Linked DNA regions of Homo sapiens. The protein of the gene in region 1 purifies or fractionates together with the protein of each later gene. This does not show direct contact. Each region holds a gene or a part of one and is shown on either strand. Other genes may lie near its edges. The genes, in order: GMEB1, DHRS2 and MATN4.

The links.
Region 2: the proteins of GMEB1 (region 1) and DHRS2 purify together in Homo sapiens (affinity purification with mass spectrometry; 2 studies listed by BioGRID and IntAct, with this or other methods). This does not show direct contact.
Region 3: the proteins of GMEB1 (region 1) and MATN4 purify together in Homo sapiens (affinity purification with mass spectrometry; 2 studies listed by BioGRID and IntAct, with this or other methods). This does not show direct contact.

The regions. Positions count from the first base shown.
Region 1 is NC_000001.11:28,664,816-28,671,852, reverse strand, and holds the start of GMEB1 (glucocorticoid modulatory element-binding protein 1), read right to left. Parts: upstream 3,070-7,037; 5' UTR 3,014-3,069; intron 2,636-3,013; exon of another isoform or gene 658-2,635; intron 1-657. UniProt on the Homo sapiens protein: Trans-acting factor that binds to glucocorticoid modulatory elements (GME) present in the TAT (tyrosine aminotransferase) promoter and increases sensitivity to low concentrations of glucocorticoids. Also binds to the transferrin receptor promoter.
Region 2 is NC_000014.9:23,632,055-23,639,432, forward strand, and holds the start of DHRS2 (dehydrogenase/reductase SDR family member 2, mitochondrial), read left to right. Parts: upstream 1-4,309; 5' UTR 4,310-4,718; intron 4,719-6,339; exon of another isoform or gene 6,340-6,363; intron 6,364-6,772; 5' UTR 6,773-6,810; coding exon 6,811-6,950; intron 6,951-7,124; coding exon 7,125-7,302; intron 7,303-7,378. UniProt on the Homo sapiens protein: NADPH-dependent oxidoreductase which catalyzes the reduction of dicarbonyl compounds. Displays reductase activity in vitro with 3,4-hexanedione, 2,3-heptanedione and 1-phenyl-1,2-propanedione as substrates.
Region 3 is NC_000020.11:45,298,300-45,305,404, reverse strand, and holds part of MATN4 (matrilin-4 isoform 1 precursor), read left to right. Parts: intron 1-607; coding exon 608-1,177; intron 1,178-3,961; coding exon 3,962-4,084; intron 4,085-4,180; coding exon 4,181-4,303; intron 4,304-4,395; coding exon 4,396-4,518; intron 4,519-6,821; coding exon 6,822-7,105. UniProt on the Homo sapiens protein: Major component of the extracellular matrix of cartilage.

The DNA.
Region 1 (7,037 bases):
GAGCTACCGCGCCCAGCCCAAAATATTTATTTATTCCACACTCTATTATAACTTTTGAAGACTGTGTAGTCGTTTTATTTTTTATATATTTATTTATTTATTTTTTAGTGAGACATAGTCTCACTCTGTCACCCAGGCCGGAGAGCAGTGGTGCGCTCTCGGCTCACTGCAACCTCGACTTCCGGAGCTCAAGCGATCCTCCCACTTAAGCCTCCAGAGTAGCTGGGACCACAGGCAACTAGCTCCACCACGCCCATCTAATTTTTGTCATTTTTTGTAGAGACGGGGTTTCACCATGTTGCCCAAGCTGGTCTGGAACTCGAGCTAAAGAGAGGCCGAGGAGGCCGCTCACTTTGGGAGGCCGCCTGTCTCGGCCTCCCACAGTGCTGGCATTACAGGCATAAATCACAGCGCCCGCCAGAAAACTAACAAAATTAGGCGGGCGCAGTGCCACGCACCTGTAGTCCCAGCTACTCAGGAGGCTGAGCTGAGAGGATCGAGTTTGCAGTGAGCTGAGATCCCGCAATGCACTCTCACCTGGGCAACAGAGGGAAACTCTGTTCCCCCAAAAAAATAAAATAAAAAAGAAATTTCCACTCTAAACTACAGTTTTGTTTAAAACGGGGGGAAAAATCCAAGTTAAAACTTTATTATTACTTGAGGCCAAAACTCCTTGATATCCCCTTTATTTCTTCTCATGCATTCAGTGGGTGATCCATAGTGCTACAAGATGTAATGAGGTCAACAAGTAAATTATGCAGAAACACTGAGGGAAGTATCCAGAGGAGGTGAAATTCTAAGTCACAGACTGGAGACTATTATGTAGATGTTTGAGGGAGCGATGGGATAAGAGTTATTTGGAGTCATCCCGCTACAGTCCGGTGGACTTTGGCTTAGGGCAAGACCAAAATACTGCCCCCACAATAAACCCAATGAAGCTGAGTAGAAGCTACCTATACAATGTATTTGCTGAAGTAAATAGGAACCCAAAAAAAATCATTTAAGTAAGATATTAAATATACATCCTTGATATAAGGCTCTCAAATTAGGAGACGGTGCAACCATTGAATAAGTTTCCCCCGCCGGGCGCAGTGGCTCACGCCTGTAATACCAGCACTTTAGGAGGCCAACGCGGGCGAATCACAAGGTCAGGAGATCGAAACCATCCTGGCTAACATGGTGAAACCCCGTCTCTACTAAAAACACAAAAAAATTAGCCTGGTTGGGCCAGGCGCAGTGATTCACGCCTGTAATCCCAGTACTCTGGGAGGCTGAGGATGTGGGATCACCTGAGGTTGGGAGTTCGAGACCAGCCTGGCCAACATGGTGAAACCCCGTCTCTATTAAAAATACAAAAATTAGCTGGGTGTGGTGGCGGGCGCCTGTAGCCCCAGCTACTCGGGAGGGTGAGGCAGGAGAATCGCTTGAACCCAAGAGGCGGAGGTTGCAGTGAGCTGAGATCGCGCCATTGCACTCCAGTCTGGGCAACAGGAGTGAAACTCCGTCTCAAACAACAACAACAACAACAACAAAATTGGCTGGTGTGGTGGCACGCGCCTGTAGTCCCAGCTACTCGGGAGGCTGAGGCAGGAGAATCGTTTGAACCCAGGAGGCGGAAGTTGCAGTGAGCCACCACTCCAGCCTGGGCGATAGAGTGAGACTCCGTCTCAAAAAACAAATAAATAAATAAATAAATAAAAAGGGTCCCCAAATGCACTTTGGTAACTATTAGAAGAGGCAAGGAGGAAGAAGATAATCCCTCAAGACTAGAATTATGTCTGACAGTCTCTTTTCCTAAAACCCGTCTTGATTGGCCTAAACAGACACCAATCAAGGCCCCATCTGTGTCTACTAGGAAGTGGTTTTGAGATTTCTCTCATCTTGAGAGAATCCAGGGCTGCGCCTGCTCTGCTGTCTAGGTCAAGACTTCACCCTCTTGTCTTGTGGATCATCCTCCAAAGACCCTCGGGTTGAGATTTTGCCTTCATCTCTCCTGCCCCTCAATTAGATAACACCTGGCCAATTCCTGTCATTTCAGAAAGCGGGAACACCTTAAGCATCTTTCCTCAACGATCTCTGCTTCTCTCAAAAAGATAGGTTTCTCCATCCCCTGACCGAGCGGGTTACTTTGTTCTCCACCTAGACATCAAGAGGCACCTAGACACCTTCCATCCCCTCAGGTTTGGACGCTGCTCTTTCGTACTTCAGGAGGCTCTAGGAGTCTTCCTACCACGCGCTCATCTGTGGGGAGACCTGGGCCTGCTCACTTCCCCTTAGAGCTCCTCTTCCTTCCCTGCCTTTGGAAAAAACCTGCCCTTTTTTCCCTTGTTCTGAGTGGCCGAGGCCTCTACCGCGCCCCTCGGGATAAGCTGGACTCTGCTCTCCTCAGAAGAACCCACTCTGTACTCTTGCTCTCCCGCCAAGGCTCCGAGAGGGTCTCCTCCCAGGCGGGCATCCGGGCTTCCAGCACCTATCGTCCCCCTCCCACTGGGCAGGACCCAGGCCTCCAACCAGCTCCTCATCCAAGGGCCCGGTGCTCCCCGGACCCCGCCTTTGGGGATACCCCAGGCTCCCCGGACCCCTCGATGGGGTCCTGGGCGCCTGGCCCTCTCAGTCCGGAGTCACTCCGGCCCCTCCTGGCCCCTGAGCCGAGTACTTCCGGGCCCCTCGGTCCGGGGGCGCCGGGGCCCCCCCAGTGGTGGACTCGCCGGTTCCCGCCGCCCTGGTCTGGGGCCCGAGCCCCGGCGGCGCGGCCGGCTGCGCTGGGGGCGGCCCGGCGGCTCGGGCGGACCCAGCGGCAGCGTCCCCCCACCCCCCCGCGGCGCCGCGACGTCCGCTCGCTCCCCGGCGGCGGCGGCGGCACGCACAGGGCGTGGGGAGGCGCCCGCGGAGGCAGCAGCCCCCCGCCCCCTGCGCGCCCGCCCGCCCTCGCCGGCCGCCGCGCGGCCCCCGCGCCCGCCCCCCCGCCCCCACCCCACCCCGCGCCCGCGCGCCCACCCCTCCCCCTCCTCACCGTCTCCGTCGGGCGGGCGGGCGGCGAGCGGCCAGGGCGGGCAGGCGACGGAGCATGCGCAGAGGCCGCCACGGCAGCTACCGCCACCGCCGCCGCCAGGCCGGGCTTCAACACTTCCGGCCGCCGCCGCCGGAGAGCTGGCGCCTTAAAGGGGACGCGTCCCTATTGCCGGTCCCACCGAGGATTAACCTTAGCCAAGGGATTTGGGCCTTACCTAAGCAGAATTCTTTCGCCCTTGAAAATCAGTGTTGGAAAGGTCGCTAGAGACCCCAGTAACTCTCCTTCCCGCACTCATAGATGAGGAAAATAGGCCCTAAATGAAAGAATCACCTCAACCACAATTGAGGGCCAAGCTAGCTTTCTCGACTCCTCTGGAGGACTCTACTCCATTTACCTCCCCAAATCCTGTTTTATGAAGTTTACATCTTATCGGACCCTTCAAGTTACAATCCAGCTATCAGTTTGCAATCAGAAGATCTGCATAGATCAGTAACTGGTCACGAGTCCTTGAGCAAGCCCTAAGCATTGTCTGACCCGTGCCTGTTTGCCAAGTTTTTCCTGCTTGTGAGTTTCTGGGTTGAAGTCTTGACTCCCCTGCTGGAAGTGTAAACGACTCTGGAGGAATTTCTTGACAGCTCTAAACCTGTTTCCGATAAGACATAATGTGAGTGCTAAAGAAGGTGATACCTGCATGAAAAGTGCTTCAGAGAGTTCCTGGGGTCAGTAATAGTAATTAACAAGTATTAAGACCTTTATTTTTTATTTATTTATTTATTTTTTTAGACAGAGTCTTGCTCTTTGGCCAGGCTGGAGTGCAGTGGCGCGATCTCGGCTCACTGCAGCTTCAGCCTCCTGGGTTCAAGTGATTCTCCGGCCTCAGCCTCCCGAAGAGCTGGCACTAGAGGCGCGCGACACCACGCCCGGCAATTTTTTTTTTTTTTTGTATTTTAGTAAAGACAGGATTTCACCATGTTGGCCAGGATGGTCTCAATATCTGACCTCATGATCCACCCGCCTGGGCCTCCCAAAGAGCTGGGATTACAGGCGTGAGCCACCGCGCCCGGCCGTATTAAGACCTTTCTATGGCCAGGTGTGGTGGCTTACGCCTGTAATCCCACACTTTGGGAAGCCGAGGCGGACAGATCACTTGAGACCAGGAGTTCGAGACCAGCCTGGGCAACATGGTGAAACCCCGTCTCTACTAAAAATACAGAAATTAGCCGGGCGTCGTGGCACGCGCCTCTAGTCCCAGCTACTCAGAAGGCTGAGCCAGGAGAATCACTTGAACCCGGGAGGCGGAGGTTGCAGTGAGCCGAGATCAGGCCATTGCACTCCAGCCTGGGCAACAGAGTGAGACTCTATCTCAAAAAACAAACAAACAAAAAGACCTTTCTATGGCCTATGGCTTGGTGAAGATGCTTCTGTCTTGTATAATCCTCACAGCAACCCTACTAAGTAAGTTTCTCTTTTTTTTTTTTTTTGAGACGGAGTCTTGCTCTGTCGCCCAGGCCGGAGTGCAGTGGCGCAATCTCGGCTCACTGCAAGCTCCGCCTCCTGGGTTCACACCATTCTCCTGCCTCAGTCTCCTCAGTAGCTAGGACTACAGGCGTCCGCCACTACGCCTGGCTAATTTTTTTGTATTTTTTAGTAGAGACAGGGTTTCACCGTCTTAGCTAGGATGGTCTCGATCTCCTGACCTTGTGATCCGTCCGCCTCAGCCTCCCAAAGTGTTGAATTACAGGCGTGAGCCACCGCGCCCGGCCCTTCTTTTCTTTTCTTTCTTTTTTTCTTTTTTTTGGTGGGGGGGACCGGTCTGGGTTGATCTCCCAGGCTGAGTGCAGTGGCGGGATCTCGGCTCACTGCAGCCCCAGCCTCCAGTGCTCAAGCAGTCCTCCTGCCTCAGCCCCCGGAGTAGCTGGGACCACAAGCAGGAACCACCATGCCTGGCTAATTTTTACATTTTTAGTAGAAATGGGGTTTTACCATGTTGCCCACTCTGGTCTCTAACTCCTGGGCTCAAGCAATCCTCCTGCCTTGGCCTCCCAAAGTGCTGGGATTACAGGTGTGAGCCACCATAATTGTTTGTTTATTGATTGATTGATTTGGAGACGGAGTCTCGGTCTGTGCAGTGGTGCGATCTTGGCTGCCTCCCAGGTTAAAGCGATTCTCCTGCCTCAGCCTCCCGAGTAGCTGGGACTACAAGCACGAGCCACCACGCCTGGTTAATTTTTTGTATTTTTAGTAGAGACGGGGTTTCACCGTGTTGGCCAGGATGATCTCGATCTCTTGACCTCATGATCTGCTGCCTTGGCCTCCCAAAGTGCTGGGATTACAGGCATGAGCCATCGCGCCCAGCCAATTTTTGTATTTCTGGTAGAGACAGGGTTTCACCATGTTGGCCAGGATGGTCTCAATCTCTTGACCTCGTGATCCTCCTGCCTCAGTCTCCCAAAGTGCTGGCATTACAGGCGTGAGCCACCGTGCCTGGCCATTTATTTTTATTTAGTTATTTTGGAGGATAGAGTCTCCTCCTGGGCACAAGTGATCCTCCAATCTTGACTTCCCGAGTAGCTGAGACTATAGGCTTGCACAACCACGCCCAGCTCCTTTTTGTATTTTTCATAGAGCTGGGGTTTCACCATGTTACCAAGGCTGGTCTCAAATTCCTGAGCTCAAGTGATCCACCCACCTCGGCCTCCCAAAGTGCTGGAATTATAGTCGTGGGCCACCGTGCCTGGATGATAACTGATTTTTTTTTTTTTTTTTTTGAGATGGGGTCTCGCTCTGTCGCCAGGCTGGAGTGCAGTGGCCCTACAATCTCAGCTCACTGCAGCCTCTACCTTCTGAGTTCAAGGGATTCTCCTGCCTCAGCCTCCTGAGTAGCAGGGATTACAGGCATGTGCTGCCACACCTGACTAATTTTTGTATTTTTGGTAGAGACGGGGTTTCACTATGTTGGCCAGGCTGGCCCCAAACTCATGACCTTAGGTGACCCACCCGCCTCGGTCTCCCAAAGTGCTGGGATTACAGGCCACTGTTCCTGGCCTATAACTGATATTTTTTTTTTTTTGAGACAGAGTCTCACTCTTGTCACTCAGGCTCGAGTGCAGTGGTGCCATCTCGGCTCACTGCAACCTCTGACTCCTGAGTTCAAGTGATTCTCCTGCCTCAGCCCCGGAAGTAGCTGGGATTACAGGTCCCCACCACCACACCTGGCTAATTTTTGTATTTTTAGCAGAGACGTCGTTTCACCGTGTTGGGCAGGTTGGTCTCAAACTCCTAACCTCCGGTGATCTGCCTGGAGCCACCACTTCTGGCAACTGATTTTTTAAAAGACAAAAACTTCAAGCATCATCTGGTCTCTCCTCCAGCCTGGAACAGTGTCTCTGGCTGTCCACCGACTCTCCATACTCCACATGCCCACAACTGAATTTGTTTCTTTCCCCACCCACCTTAGATGTCTTCAACAAACCTGCTTCTGTCCTAGTGTCCCCCACCTCAGGGAATGTTGCCCTCATCTCTCAGTCACCTCCCAAAGACCCCTAGAATATCATCTCTTCTCTAACCCCCACTGGTCCAGATCATCATCATCTGCCTCTGTCACAGCCAGTGCCTCCTAATTGGTCTCCCTACTTCCTGTCTTGCTGCCTTTGAGTCTTCATTCTTAATTCTTTTAGTGGCCTCCTATCCCCTTTAAAAAAAATTGCTTGTGAACTCCCCATCATGGTCTATAGGACCTGGCACTGGGATCCTTTCTTTACTTTCTTTCTTTCTTTTTTTTTTTTCGAGACGGAGCCTTACTCTGTCACCCAGGCTGGAGTGCAGTGGCGCAATCTCGGCTCACTGCAACTTCTGCCTCCCAAGTTCAAGTGATTCTCCCACCTCATTCTCCCAAGTAGCTGGGACTACAGGCACATGCCACCACACCTGGCTAATTTTTATATTTTTAGTAGAGATGGGGTTTCACCACGTTGGCCAGGCTGGTCTCGAACTCCACCTCAGCTTCCCAAAGTGCTGGGATTAC
Region 2 (7,378 bases), on another chromosome or scaffold:
AAGGGGACAGCCAGACTTGCTGAGCTAGGAACACATCTCACAGGTGCTGTTACTCTAGCCTTCCAGCAGGGGGCGTCCTGTCCCGACAAAAGGCGAGTCCTCTTTTTCCTGCTGTCCTCCCAGCCAAGGAGACTGGATTCCTCTCAACCTCAAAAGGGGGTTAATCTGAGCTCGCAGCAGAAGGAGAGGAGTTCCCCAGGGGGGGCATAACAATGTTCAGAATCTGGTGTCCTGTTTAGAAAAGGTAGACCAATCAGGAGCTGAAACCCCTTGTCTCCACGTAATGCAAGGCTGTAAATATGACCTTGCAGGAAGGAGAGAGGCGTGAGAGAGTAAGCGAGAGCAACAGCAGGCAGAGTGGAAGCAGCTGGGAGGAAAGAGGGAGGAGGTCTAGGACCTACAAAGATTGTTTTTGGAAATACAATATCAGAAGAGATATAAATCGGAAATCAAGGCTTCCTTCCCAAAGCAAAGCATTTGGTCGCCTGCATTTTGACACTGAGTACAGACTGATATTTAATAGACAGTTTCTTCACAATTCCTGAGCAGCACCCATTCACTTATAATTTATAGATACAGACCCCTAACTCGAAGGAACTGAGTTATGCAAGAGTTGCTAAGGAACAAGGGGAGATGCAGTAGGTAAGGCAGGGGTTGCTTAGTAACCAGGAGTCCCTTGGTGATGGAGTGGCCAGAGCATGTCTGGAACTGATGAGGGTCTGTAGACAGAGTCATCCCAGGCCAGAGCCTCCTGCAAGTTCACATCTGTCGGCCCCTTGGCCCAGAGCTGCCAGAGCCTGCCTCTCTTCACCTTCCTGGCACTGTCCTGTCCCACATGAAAAGCACACTGCTAAGTCCCTGAGTGCCCTGCTAACTAACCCCTTGCTGGAACCACTCCTTCCCTCCCTCTCTCAACAGGAAGCTCATCAGATTCTTCCATTAGAGTAGGGAATGGCAGGCCAATGGGAATCCCACATAGGGGAAGGCAGGAGCCTCTGGGCTAACATGAATGTGGAGCTGGGAAATTAGGATTTGGGTGAAAGAGGGTCTCCTAGACAAGCATCCCTGGCATTTTCCAGTTCATGGTGATATATCTTCATACCTGAGTCTCCCATGCCAGATCCTCTCCCTGCCTTCACATCTGCGCATAGCTACAGAGGCACACCGTTCCCTTCTGAAGGGCCTCCTGAGGGCACAGGTCTCCACACAGCAGCCTGGATGTCTGTGGCTGGTTTAACTGGCTCAGCTCCACGGACATCCCTTCAGAGAGCTTCAATCAGCACCGGCCTGCTGGAGTCATTCAGAACTGCAGTCTGCTTTCTCAGGCATGAGCCCCCCATTCTCTGTATTCCAGGCACATAGGCATCCCTGCTCTCTCCCAAACACCCTGGACATCCACACCCTCCATTCTTCCTCTCAGCCTGTTCCCCTTGACAGGAGGATCTATCCTGTTGCTGCCCCTGTCAAAATCCTCCTCAGTCTTGCAGGTCCTATCTACCTGCAACTTTCCCAGCCTGATTAGCTCACCAGCCTTATTGAGCACTCCTGTGTTTCAAGCCCTGGGCCCCAAGAGGGAGGAGTGGAGCCTGTGTTCAAGGAACTCACATGACACTCATTACTGATCCTCTGCTTCCTGGCTAGGATACTCCATGAAAGCCCTCTGTGAACTGAATGTTTAAAATCAGAAAGTTTTGCTTATTTAAAGCAAAGCCCTTTGCATAGAACAACTTTGAGAAAGTATCTGAGATGCTGGCAAATTTTCTTCTGAGAAGGGAATTGGAGGATTTAATTTTTGAATTAAGTTTTAAGCTGCTTGAATTTTAAAATTTACCATGAGCAGGTAATCTTTACTTTTAAACTTTTAAATTGTGAATTATAACACATACGTAAAAAGTATACACATACATAGGTGATATAATATATCTTCATGGACATCATGTAGGCATCACTTGCTTATCAAATACAACATTGCCAGCACGCTAGAAGCTCTTTAGTTTGCCCCTTCTTTTTTTTTTTTTTTTTTTTTTTTTTGAGACGGAGTCTCCCTCTGTCACCCAGGATGGAGTGCAGTGGTGCAATCTTGGCTCACTGCAACCTCCAACTCCTGGGTTCAAGCGACTCTCCTGCCTCAGTCTCCCAAGTAGCTGGGACTATAGGCATGCGCCACCACACCTGGCTAATTTTTGTATTTTTAGTAGAGATGAGGTTTCACCATGTTGGCTAGGCTGGTCTCCATCTCCTGACCTCAAGTGATCCCCCTGCCTTGGCCTCCAAAGTGCTGGGATTACAGGCATGAGCCACCGTGCCTAGCCTGTTTGCACCTTCTTAATCATAACTGCCTCCCCACAGCTCTACTGCGGAAATACCCACTCTCCTCACTTTTGTGGTGATCACTGCCCTGCATTTCTCTGTATTTTTGTCACCTGTTTGCCTTCTTAAGCAATATAGAATTGTTTTACCTGTTGTTGAAACTTGTGGACTCAAATAATATGTATTCTTTTGTGTCTGACTTCTTTTACTCAACAGTATATTTTTTAAGATTCCTTTATGTTGTTCAGTGTGGCTTCAGCTCATTCATTTTCATTATTGTATAGTATTCCATTATAGAAATGCAACACAGTTTGTTTATCCATTCCACCGTTAATAGGCATATAGACTTTGATATGGTTTAGGTCTGTGTCCCTGCCCAAATCTCATGTCGAATTGTAATCCCCAATGTTGGAGGAGGGGGCCTAGTGGAAGGTGATTGGATCATGGGGGCAGATTTCCCCCTTGCTGCTCTTGTGATAGTGAGTGAGTTCTCATGAGATCTGGTTGTTTGGAAGTGTGTAGCACCTCCCCCTTTGCTCTCACTTCCTCCTGCTCCAGCTGTGTAAGTTCTGCCTGCTTCATTTCACCTTCTGCCTTAATTGTAAGTTTCCTGAGGCCTTCCCAGCCATGCTTCCTGTACAGCCTGTGGAATTGTGAGTCAATTAAACCTCTTTTCTTTATAAATTACCCAGTCTCAGGTAGTTCTTTTTTTTTTTGAGACAGGGTCTTGCTCTCTCTCCCAGGCTGGAGTACGGTGGTGCAATCTCAGCCTACCACAGCCTTGACCTCCTGGGCTCAAGCAATCGTCCCATCTTAGTCTCCCGAGTAGCTGTGACTACAGGCATGCACCACCACACCCAGCTAATTTTTATAGAGACATGGTTTCACCTTGTTGCCCAGGCTGGTCTCAAACTCCTGAGCTCAAGGGATCTGCCCACCTTGGCCTTCCAAAGTACTGGGATTACAGGTGTGAGCTACCGTGCCTGGCCTCAGTTAGTTCTTTATAGCAGTGTGAAAACAAACTAATACAGACTTGTTTCCAGTTTGGAACATTCTAAGCAGGCTTCTCTGAACCTGTGTGTACAGTCTCTTGGTGCACACATGACCTCCTGTCTGCAGGATGCAAGTTCCCTCTACAGAGTCAGAGATCTTTATTTTCAACTTCTCCGTATAATGCCAAATCATTTCCCAAAGTGATTGTACTTACCCTCTACCCAGCAGTGAATGAGAGTTTCTGTTGATTTTGCTTTTTCAACTAGAAGTGAGAGGTGACAATATGCTAGCAGCCCTTGCTCACTCTTGGTGCCTCCTCGTCCTCCACATCCACTCTGGCTGCACTTGAGGAGCCCTTCAGCCCACCACTGCACTGTGGGGGCCCCTCTCTGGGGCTGGCCAAGGCCGAAGCCAGCTCCCTCTGCTCGCCAGGAGGTGTGGAGGGAGAGGCGCCGGCAGGAGCCCACACTGTACAGGGCACTCACCGGCCAGCAGGGGCTCCGTGGGCCGGCCGGTGCCAGCTGGGCCTGACTGGGGGATGAGCTCCCTCTGGGCTGCTGGAGTGCCTGGGCTAGGTGCCGCAAAGTCCTGCAGTGTGTGCCATTGAGAGGTGAAGCCGGCTGGGCTTCTGGGTCCGGTGGGGACCTGGAGAACTTTTCTGTCTAGCTAAAGGTTTGTAAATGCACCCATCAGCACTCTGTGTCTAGCTAAAGGTTTGTAAATGCACCAATCAGCAATCTGTGTCTAGCCAATCTGGTGGGGACTTGGAGAACTTTTGTGTCTAGCTAAAGGATTGTAAATGCACCAATCAGCACTCTGTGTCTAGCTAAAGGTTTGTAAATGCACCAATCAGCACTCTGTCAAAACGGACCAATCAGCTCTCTGTAAAACAGACCAATCAGCTCTCTGTAAAATGGACCAATCAGCTCTCCATAAAATGGACCAATCAGCAGGATGTGGGTGTGGCCAGTTAAGGGAATAAAAGCAGGCTGCCTGAGCCGGCAGCAGCAACCTGCTCTGGTTCCCTTCCACGCTGTGGAAGCTTTGTTCTTTTGGTCTTCATGATAAATCTTGCTGCTGCTCACTCGTTGGGTCCGTGCCACCTTTAAGAGCTGTAACACTCACCGCGAAGGTCTGCAACTTCACTCCTGGGGCCAGCAAGACCACGAATGCACCGAGAGGAATGAACAACTCTGGACACACCATCTTTAAGAACCGTAATACTCACCGCAAGGGTCTGCAACTTCATTCTTGAAGTCAGTGAGGCCAAGAACCCATCAATTCCGTACACATTTTGGTGACTTTGAAGAGACTGTCACCTATCACCAAGTGGTGAGACTATTGCCAAGCAGTGAGACTATTGCCAAGTGGTGAGACCATCACCAAGCGGTGAGACTATCACCTATCGCCAAGTGGTGAGTACCATCAGATCCCTTTCATTTGCTATTCTGTCCTATTTTTCCTTAGAATTCGGTGGCTAAATTCTGGGCACCTGTCGGCCAGTTAAAAGTGACTAGCGCAGCCGCTGGACTAAAAACGTGGGTGTCAGGCTTTCTGGGAAAGGGATCTCTAACAACCCCTGGCTCTGTGGAGTTGGGAATGTTGTTTTGCCTGGAACCAGCTTCCGCTTTTCCTGTACTTCTGGGCTGAGCTGAGGGTCAACAGAGAGGAAAGCCATTCAGCTCCGGAGTCCCCACAACAAGTTGGTTGACCCTGCGGCCATGAGCGGAACTCTCAAAGGCATGTTGCCCAAGTGAGACTCACCTATCTATCCTATCTATCCTGACCCTTGCTCGCTGGGTCCTAATGCCTGCCAGACAAACTTTCTCTCTCCTCTCTTCTCCTAGGCTAGTCCCACTTCTAAAAAACCACTCCCTGTCTCTGGTGCTTTTCTAATTTCTCTTATAAGAATGATTTCTAGTAAAAATTTCAGGACTCTGTTACCTTCTTTAGGCACCTGGGCTCACCAATCAGAAAGACATAATTTTTGCCCAAAGCCCAGTTGTAGGGGGAACTATCTGGAATTTTAGAATCCCTCCTCAGATAAGCAGGTCTAACAAAAGCTATTCCTGAAGCTAGGATAGGGGGAGCCTCAGAAATTGTATCCTTCCTATTCATATAAGTGAGGACAAAAGGTGTCACTTTTCCAACCCTGGAGACCCCTTCCCTCCCTCAGGTTACTCTTCTTCATTTTTGGGGCATAACATCTTTATAGGACACGGGTAAGTTCCCAATACTAACAGGAGAATGCTTAGGACTCTAACAGGTTTTCGAGAATGCGTCGGTAAGGGCCACTAAATCCGATTTTTCTCGGTCCTCCTCATGGTCTAGGAGGACAAGCAAGGGTGCAGCACTCTATGTCTAGCTAATCAGGTGGGGACTTGGAGAACTTTTGTGTCTAGCGAAAGGATTGTAAATGCACCAATCAGCACTCTGTGTCTAGCTAAAGGTTTGTAAACACAGCAATCAGCACTCTGTCAAAATGGACCAATCAGCTCTCTATAAAACAGACCAATCAGCTCTCTGTAAAATGGACCAATCAGCAGGATGTGGACAGGGCCAGATAAGGGAATAAAAGCAGGCCACCCGAGCCAGCAGCAGCAACCTGCTTGAGTCCCCTTCCACACTGTGGAAGTTTTGTTCTTTCGCTCTTTGCAATAAATCTTGATTCACTGCTGCTCACTCTTTGGGTCCGCGCTGCCTTTAAGAGCTGTAACACTCACCACGAAGGTCTGCAACTTCACTCCTGAGGCCAGTGAGACCACAAACCCTCCAGAAGGAATGAACAACTCCAGACGCACTGCCTTTAAGAGCTGTAACACTCACTGCGAAGGTCTGCAGCTTCACTCCTGAAGCCAGCAAGACCACTAACCCACCAGGAGGAATGAACAACTCCGGACGGGAGGAATGAACAACTCCGGATGGGAGGAATGAACAACTCCGGACACACCATCTTTAAGAACTGTAACACTCATTGCGAGGGTCCGTGGCTTCATTCTTGAAGTCAGCGAGACCAAGAACCCACCAATTCCAGACACAGAAGCAGTTAATTAATAACTGGTATAATTATTTGTTGGTGCCTGGCATCTCATTTAACTGGGAAGCTGCATGGTTGGGGTCCAGGGCTGAGTCTGTCGTTTACTAAGGTGTCCCCGCCTCTACTGCCCAGTGCTTGACACATTGCCAGTGCTCAATGTTTGCTATGCAATGGATGGAAAAATCACCCTTGTCTAATGAATGTTGAGTCTCACATTTTAATTTGTGAATAATTTCCCCAGTTTTATAGCTTAGGAGTTTTCATGGATTGCTTTCCTGACCTGAGGTTCACATGTTTGAAATTTACCCTAACCAGCCTGACTCTCTGCCACTTTCTGTTGCTGGCCTTGTCTGTCTGGAGGAAGGAGGAGGGTAGATTACCTTCATGCTCACTGAGGCATCAGTGATAAGTGAAATTGATTCTTTCCCCCAGGCCTGATTCAGCAGGAAGCATCTCAGACACCAACCACTATGCTGTCAGCAGTTGCCCGGGGCTACCAGGGCTGGTTTCATCCCTGTGCTAGGCTTTCTGTGAGGATGAGCAGCACCGGGATAGACAGGAAGGGCGTCCTGGCTAACCGGGTAGCCGTGGTCACGGGGTCCACCAGTGGGTGAGTGCTGGATTGCCCATGGGTCCTGGCCCCTCACAGGGTCCTTGTGGCTTCCACAAGGACTCAGGGTTTTAAAGCAAGACCCAGCCTTATTTGCTGATTTCCAGAGCTGGGTAGAGGAAGGACAGTGGAGAGAGGCTGAGGCTGACTTTTGCCCTCCATCTCTGCATTCAGGATCGGCTTTGCCATCGCCCGACGTCTGGCCCGGGACGGGGCCCACGTGGTCATCAGCAGCCGGAAGCAGCAGAACGTGGACCGGGCCATGGCCAAGCTGCAGGGGGAGGGGCTGAGTGTGGCGGGCATTGTGTGCCACGTGGGGAAGGCTGAGGACCGGGAGCAGCTGGTGGCCAAGGTGAGGGGGCAGGCGGTGGAAGGACACAGAGAGGGGAACATGCAGAACCTTTCCTTCACTGCTTGGCCCTTGTGGG
Region 3 (7,105 bases), on another chromosome or scaffold:
ACATATGGGACTGGGTTTAAGTTCCCCACTTCACCTTTCTGGGCCTCAGTTTCTTCATCTGTAGGATGTGGCTTAGTTTTGGGCGCATGCAGAACTGCCCATGGGGTGTTTAATTTGGAAAAATTATTTGAAAACATGGAAAAAAACCAGGAAATTTTACATAAAAATCCCTGTTTAGTATTTCTCTTGAAAAACCAGGGATCTGCTGACATCCAATTCGCAGGGGCATGGCCTCATTTGGATGCAGCTACCTGCCCAATTTAGGAGTGATAGGGGCTCTTTGGGTCTCCAGCGTCCTAACCCAACCAGTTCATCCATGTTCCCTGCCTGGTCCCTGCAGGCTTTGAGTTTGCGACGCTTCCTTGCCCCCTCGTCAATGGGTAATACCGCCTCAGAATAGCCCTCAGATCTGTAAGATGAGGGAATTTGTGAAATCTCCTAGCCCAGGTGCTAGGCACATGCCGGGCGAGTGCATCTGTCTAATCTGCGTTTGCTGTGCTGGGCGCTGTTATGTCGGCATAGCGGCATTTCCCCTGGGTTTCCTAGGGGGTCTCCTCGGAGGTGAGGCTTTGCTGACCTAGGAGAGTCCTCCCTGATCTCCCCGCAGGTCCCAGGTGTCACACTGGGCCCCTGGATCTGGTGTTCGTGATTGACAGCTCCCGCAGCGTGCGCCCTTTCGAGTTCGAGACCATGCGGCAGTTCCTCATGGGCCTCCTCCGAGGCCTGAACGTGGGTCCCAACGCCACGCGCGTTGGCGTGATCCAGTATTCGAGTCAAGTGCAGAGCGTCTTCCCTCTCCGCGCGTTCTCTCGCCGCGAGGACATGGAGCGCGCCATCCGCGACCTGGTGCCTCTGGCGCAAGGCACCATGACGGGACTGGCAATCCAGTACGCCATGAACGTGGCCTTCAGTGTGGCCGAGGGCGCGCGACCGCCAGAGGAGCGCGTGCCGCGTGTCGCTGTCATCGTGACAGACGGGCGGCCCCAGGACCGCGTGGCCGAGGTGGCGGCACAGGCGCGCGCCCGCGGCATTGAAATTTACGCGGTGGGGGTGCAGCGCGCGGACGTGGGCTCCCTGCGCGCCATGGCATCGCCCCCGCTAGACGAGCACGTCTTCCTCGTAGAGTCCTTCGACCTCATCCAGGAGTTCGGCCTGCAGTTCCAGAGCCGGCTGTGTGGTGAGTTAGGAGGGCGCTGGAGTGAAGCTCGAACTCTCAATCCAAATGCTTGGATTCCTTTCCCACCACAGTAAATCCCATCCCGTGGGGGTGGCCCCGCGATTTCCAGGTAGAGTTGCCCTGACCTACCGCAGGCTGTGTCAGATTTCAGCTCTGACCACTTCTGCTCAGCCTCCATCAACAAGGAGCAACCTATAATTTCTTGCCCTACCCGCCACAGCTTACCACAGGCTTAATGTCAAATTCCAGCACCAACCCCCTGCACACACGGAACCAGTGATTCTCAAAGCTAAGAGGGATCGGCTGCTCCAAAGAGTCGTGGCCCTCCCACATGGGGATGACTTCTCCCATTATCATCTTAGCTCCTCCCACAAATGCTGCAAGATCTGTTCTGATCTGTTTTGAGTTTATTCCGCCCACCTCGACTTAGCACCTCTCCACCTTCCTACCCACTCCTGCCCCTGTGTAGTCCTGTCCCAGCCCACTGACGTGTCTAATTGAGTGTCTCCTCTTCTGAGCCTACTCACAGGGGCTCCTTAAGCCTTATTCTTTCCCTAAGCCCTCTCACTTGGTACGGCCCTTCTCAAATTAGTCATTTCCTTCTGAAAGCCATTTGAGGGTGATGCCTGCCTCTGACCCCATCCCCATCCAGCTCTCTCTTGTTGGAGGCTTCTGCCCATCTGTTCCCTACTGATTCTAGTCCTGTGTGTCCTCAGGGAAGGACCAGTGTGCTGAGGGGGGACATGGTTGCCAGCACCAATGTGTCAATGCCTGGGCCATGTTCCACTGCACCTGCAACCCAGGCTACAAGCTAGCAGCAGATAACAAGAGCTGTTTGGATGACAGCTATCCCTGTCCTGCAATCTCACTGCTCCTGAACCTTCTTTGGCTCTCCATTGCCCCAACATCAGACCAATGAGTCTGGAAGGGCCTTTGGCAGTAAAAGCACACCTCCATCACTTTACAGGCCTAAGAAAGAAAGGTATTGCCTGGGGTCACATAAGTCCCTGGTGGGAGCCCACAGTTCAGTGTGCTTTCTGCCCTCTTTCTCCCTGTTTTCAGGCCAGTCTCTAATCAACCTCCCAAACTTGTTTCTGTTTTCTTCTTTTCTTTTCTCTCTCTCTTTTTTTTTTTTTTTTTTTTTTGAGACAGAGTCTGGCTCTATTGCCCAAGCTGGAGTGCAATGGTGCGATCTTAGCTCACTGCAACCTCCGCCTCCCGGGTTCAAGTGATTCTTGTGTGTCAGCCTCCCAAGTAGCTGGGATTACAGGTGCTGGCCACCACACCCAGCTATTTTTTGTATTTTTAGTGGAGATGGGGTTTCACCATGTTGGCTAGGCTGGTCTCGAACTCCTGACCTCAAGTGATCTGCCCGCCTTGGCCTCCCAAAGCGCTGGGATTACAGGCGTGAGCCACTGCGCCCGGCCATTTCTGTCTTCTTACAGGCACATCCTTACAGTTTCTCTTCTTAGATACTGTTGGGGGGTCTTCAATTAGGTGGGTGTCCCCCCTCATGCCACCCATTCTTGACTCTGCACCTCAGCTCTTTGTGTGCTGCTCACCTGAGCTGCCCTTGCCACTCCCCTCTGCCTTTGCAAATCTTTCAAGACTCTCTCTTTTTAAGAGATAGGGCCTTGCTATGTTGCCCAGGCTGGTCTCACACTCCTGGGCTCAAGAGATCCTCCCGCCTTGGCCTCTCAAAGTGCTGGGATTACAGGTGTGAGCTGCTTCTTCATTTTTGTCTTCTGAAAAGCTATGGCATAGAATACCTCGCTTATTCAATTCAGTTTTTTACTGAGTACCAAGTTAGTATTAGACATTGTGCTAGGAGCATTACACATGTTATTATCTCTCAGCCTCACAACAACCTGGAAAAAGAAATCATGTAATCCCAATAACCCAGATGTCAGCTGGGGTCTTCTTGTTTCTAGAAACTAAAAGTTGGCTTGAACTCTGATTTGATGACTGTTTAACATTCAAATCTCTCTCCAAGACCTCTGGAAATCCCCCAAGTGCTTATCTTCTGGTTGTCACCTCTTGCTGTGAGCCTCTGCTAAATTCATTTGATTTATGGATCCTCTCTCATTTCTCAACCCTGCACATGCTGTTCTTGTTCCATGCATGTTAATCAACCTCTTCGTTGGTTTACACACTTGTGTATGCAGGGGCATACACAAGCGTGTATGTGCTAAGTAACTCATAGCGCGTGCACACACACACGAAAAACTCATTATAATTGAATATTAGACAGCTTTGTTTCTGAAAGTCCTCAGTCAGCCTAGTACAAGGGATTTTTCACAGGCAGCCTCAACCCACAGAGTTACTCATCTTCATACTGGCTCTCTTGTTCTTTTTTTTTTTTTTCTTTCCTCTCTCCACTCTCATCTCCTTTCCAGGAACCCCAAATACTCACTTTTTTATACAGGGTAATTATCTTCTCTCCAGTCCAGCTCTCGGCCATCTTTGCCTATCCAGATCATCAAGATGCTCAACAGGGCAATAGTTCCCCATCTTCCATGGAAGGAAGCTGTGAATAGCAATCACTGTCTTCCATTATATTCCCATTTTGCAAATAGAAAAATGGAGGCTCAAATAGGTAAAGTGGCCAAACCTGTCCTCTGTAAGTCAGAGAGCATCTTGAGGACAGGGGCCCTGACTAATTAGGTCAGGATTTTTGGGGTTGGGGCCCAGGCGTAGGTATTCTTTAAAATTTCCTTAGGTGGTTGTGCTACCAGAGCTGAGAAGGGCAGTCCTGGGCATAGACTGACCCCATTTCTTCCTCAGCCATTGATCTGTGTGCTGAAGGGACCCATGGATGTGAGCACCACTGCGTCAATTCCCCAGGCTCCTATTTCTGTCACTGCCAAGTTGGCTTTGTACTCCAGCAGGACCAGAGGAGCTGCAGGGGTGAGCAACACCCCCACCCTCCCACCACACCCTGGACTGTGGCCTCCGAGGGCTCCAATCAGAGGCAACATCTTGCTGTTTCTTCCCTCCTGCCAGCCATTGACTACTGCAGCTTTGGGAACCATAGCTGTCAGCATGAGTGTGTTAGCACCCCTGGTGGGCCACGGTGCCACTGCAGAGAGGGCCATGACTTGCAGCCTGATGGGAGGAGCTGTCAGGGTGAGGAGGGCTCTCCTACATTTGTGGGAGGGGTAAGAGATCTTAGCTGGTGGGGTCCATCCTGACTCATCCTGACCTGTCTCTCCTTTCAGTCCGGGACCTTTGCAATGGCGTGGACCATGGCTGTGAGTTCCAGTGTGTGAGCGAGGGCCTCTCCTACCGCTGCCTGTGCCCCGAGGGGCGGCAACTTCAGGCAGATGGCAAGAGCTGCAACCGTGAGTGATGGGCGGGAGGGTGTTCTGTTGGCTTCTGCCCCATTGCCCACATTTGGAGTGTCCTTGACTTTGCCATTGCTGTGGCCCCTAGGCTGTGGTGTGAATGTCTGTGTGTGTTGTGGGGGTGACATTGGAGGGTGTGCCATTCCCTCCTTCCATCTCTTTCCTACAATCCTCTACTCTGCTGTCAATGTTAATTTAAAAATACATATTTGATCACATTCCTCCTTTGTGCACAAGCCTTCTGTGGCTCACCAATGACTACAGGAGAAAGATCAAATGACTTACCCCTAAGTATTTCAAATGGTGAGCAGAACCACATTAATGAATAATGAAATCAAATTACTGGGTTACAACCAACATTAAAAAAAAAAGAGTGGAAGACAATATAGAGTTTACTGCCTGTAGAAAGAGTTATATTATTTCTGAAATTTTAGTTCTGTGTGAAATGTCTCATGATGTATTGTCATTATTATTATTTTTACTGTGGGCTGTGATAAAAATTTTGAAACCACTGCCTTAGGTCATCACGATCTAGCTTCAGCCAACTCCATCTGCCCATCTCCTGCCACACTTGAACATTTCAGTCTTACTGGCCTGCCCCTCCCCGGATGTGTCAGGATCTCCCCAGATCCCAAGCCTCTGCACGTGCTGCATCTCACCTTCTAGACTGTCCCTTACTGCCTTGGCAAACTCCTACTGATCTTTCAAGACTGTCTTAGATCATTCAGGCTGCTATATCAAAGTACTGTAGACTAGACATTTAGTTTTCACAATTCTGGAGGCTGAGGAGTCCAAGACCAAGGTGCCAGCAGATATGGTGTCTAAAGAAGGCCTGTTTTCTGATTCTTAGATGGCACACCTTTCAAAGCCTCCCCACGCCAACACACACACACACACACACACCCCTACACACACACACCCACACACACCAATTTTCTTGCTGTGTCCTCACATGGTGAAGACAGGAAGCAAGCCCTCTTCGACTTTTTTTTTTTTTTTTTTTTTTGAGACTAAGTCTCCCTCTGTTTCTCGGGCTGGAGTGCAGTGGCGCGATGTCGGCTCACTGCAACCTCTGCCTCTGGGGCTCAACTGATTCTCCTGTTACAGCCTCTGGAGTAGCTGAGACTACAGGTGTGCCCCACCATGCTTGGCTAATTTTTGTATTTTTAGTGGAGATGGGGTTTTGCCATCTCAGCCAGGCTGGTCTCGAACTCCTAACCTCAAGTGATCTGCCCGCCTCAGCCTCCCAAAGTGCTGGGAGCCACCATGCCTGACCTCTTCAGACTCTTACAAGGACAGTAATTTTACTCATAAGCGCTGTACCCTCATGTCCTCATCTAATCCTAATTAACCTCCAAAGATCTCACCTCCGGAGACTATCACATAAAGGCGTAGGGTTTCAATAAATGAATTTTGGGAAACACACTCATTCAGTTCATAACAAAGATCAGATAGAAGGCCATCATCTCCATGCAGCCTTCCTTAACAACTCCAGGAAGAATACACTATTCCTACCTTGGGATCCCTGCATGATCTTCTCTTCTAGCACTTTCCTTGACCAGAGCACATAGCATGTCTGACTTGCTCTGCTCTGTCCTCATGGAACAGGATTATGTTTTAATTATTTCAAAACCTTTGAAAACCTCCCCACGCCAACACACACCACATTTTGGGCCTAGCAACTTTCCTGGCTCAGAATAGGGGAGGTGACATTGTAGAGTCATTCAGGAGCATGGGTTTTGGAGTCAGATGGACCTGGCTTCATGTCTTGGCTCAGTCAGTACTAGCTATGAAATCTGGGGCAATCACTTTATCCATCAGAACCTCAGGTCATAGAAAATGGGGACAATATTCAAGCTTATTGGGAGGATTGAGAATATATATAAGCACTTCACCCAGTACCTACCACATGGTAAGCTGTCGGTAAATAATGTTTTTGTTATTATTATTGTTAATACTGGTAGAGTGCTTAGAAGTGTGCCTGATACATAGTAGATGATCAATAAATGGTAGTTATTGTGGTCATTACTATGATTGTTGTTAAAAAAAGATGCTTTTAGCAGAGTGGTTTGTTCTAAGCACTGAATAAATGTCAAGGGCGATGATGAGGGTGATGATGATGGTGATGGTGATGATGATGGTGATAATTATTATTACTTAGCACACTGCCTGGCACAGGAAGGACTCAGGAAATGTTGTCTGTTATATAATAAATGTTTGCGAATGAACGACTAGATGGATAGACAGCTGCTGCCAGTCCAGAATCTGGTCCCTCAATTCAAGCTTTTCTGGCTGTGCAGGGTGCCGGGAAGGCCACGTGGACCTTGTTCTGCTGGTTGATGGCTCCAAGAGCGTGCGTCCACAAAACTTCGAGCTAGTGAAGCGCTTCGTGAACCAGATTGTGGACTTCCTAGATGTGTCCCCCGAGGGCACGCGGGTGGGGCTGGTGCAGTTCTCGAGCCGCGTGCGCACCGAGTTCCCTCTGGGTCGCTACGGCACCGCAGCCGAGGTGAAGCAGGCGGTCCTGGCCGTGGAGTACATGGAACGCGGCACCATGACAGGGCTGGCGTTGCGGCACATGGTG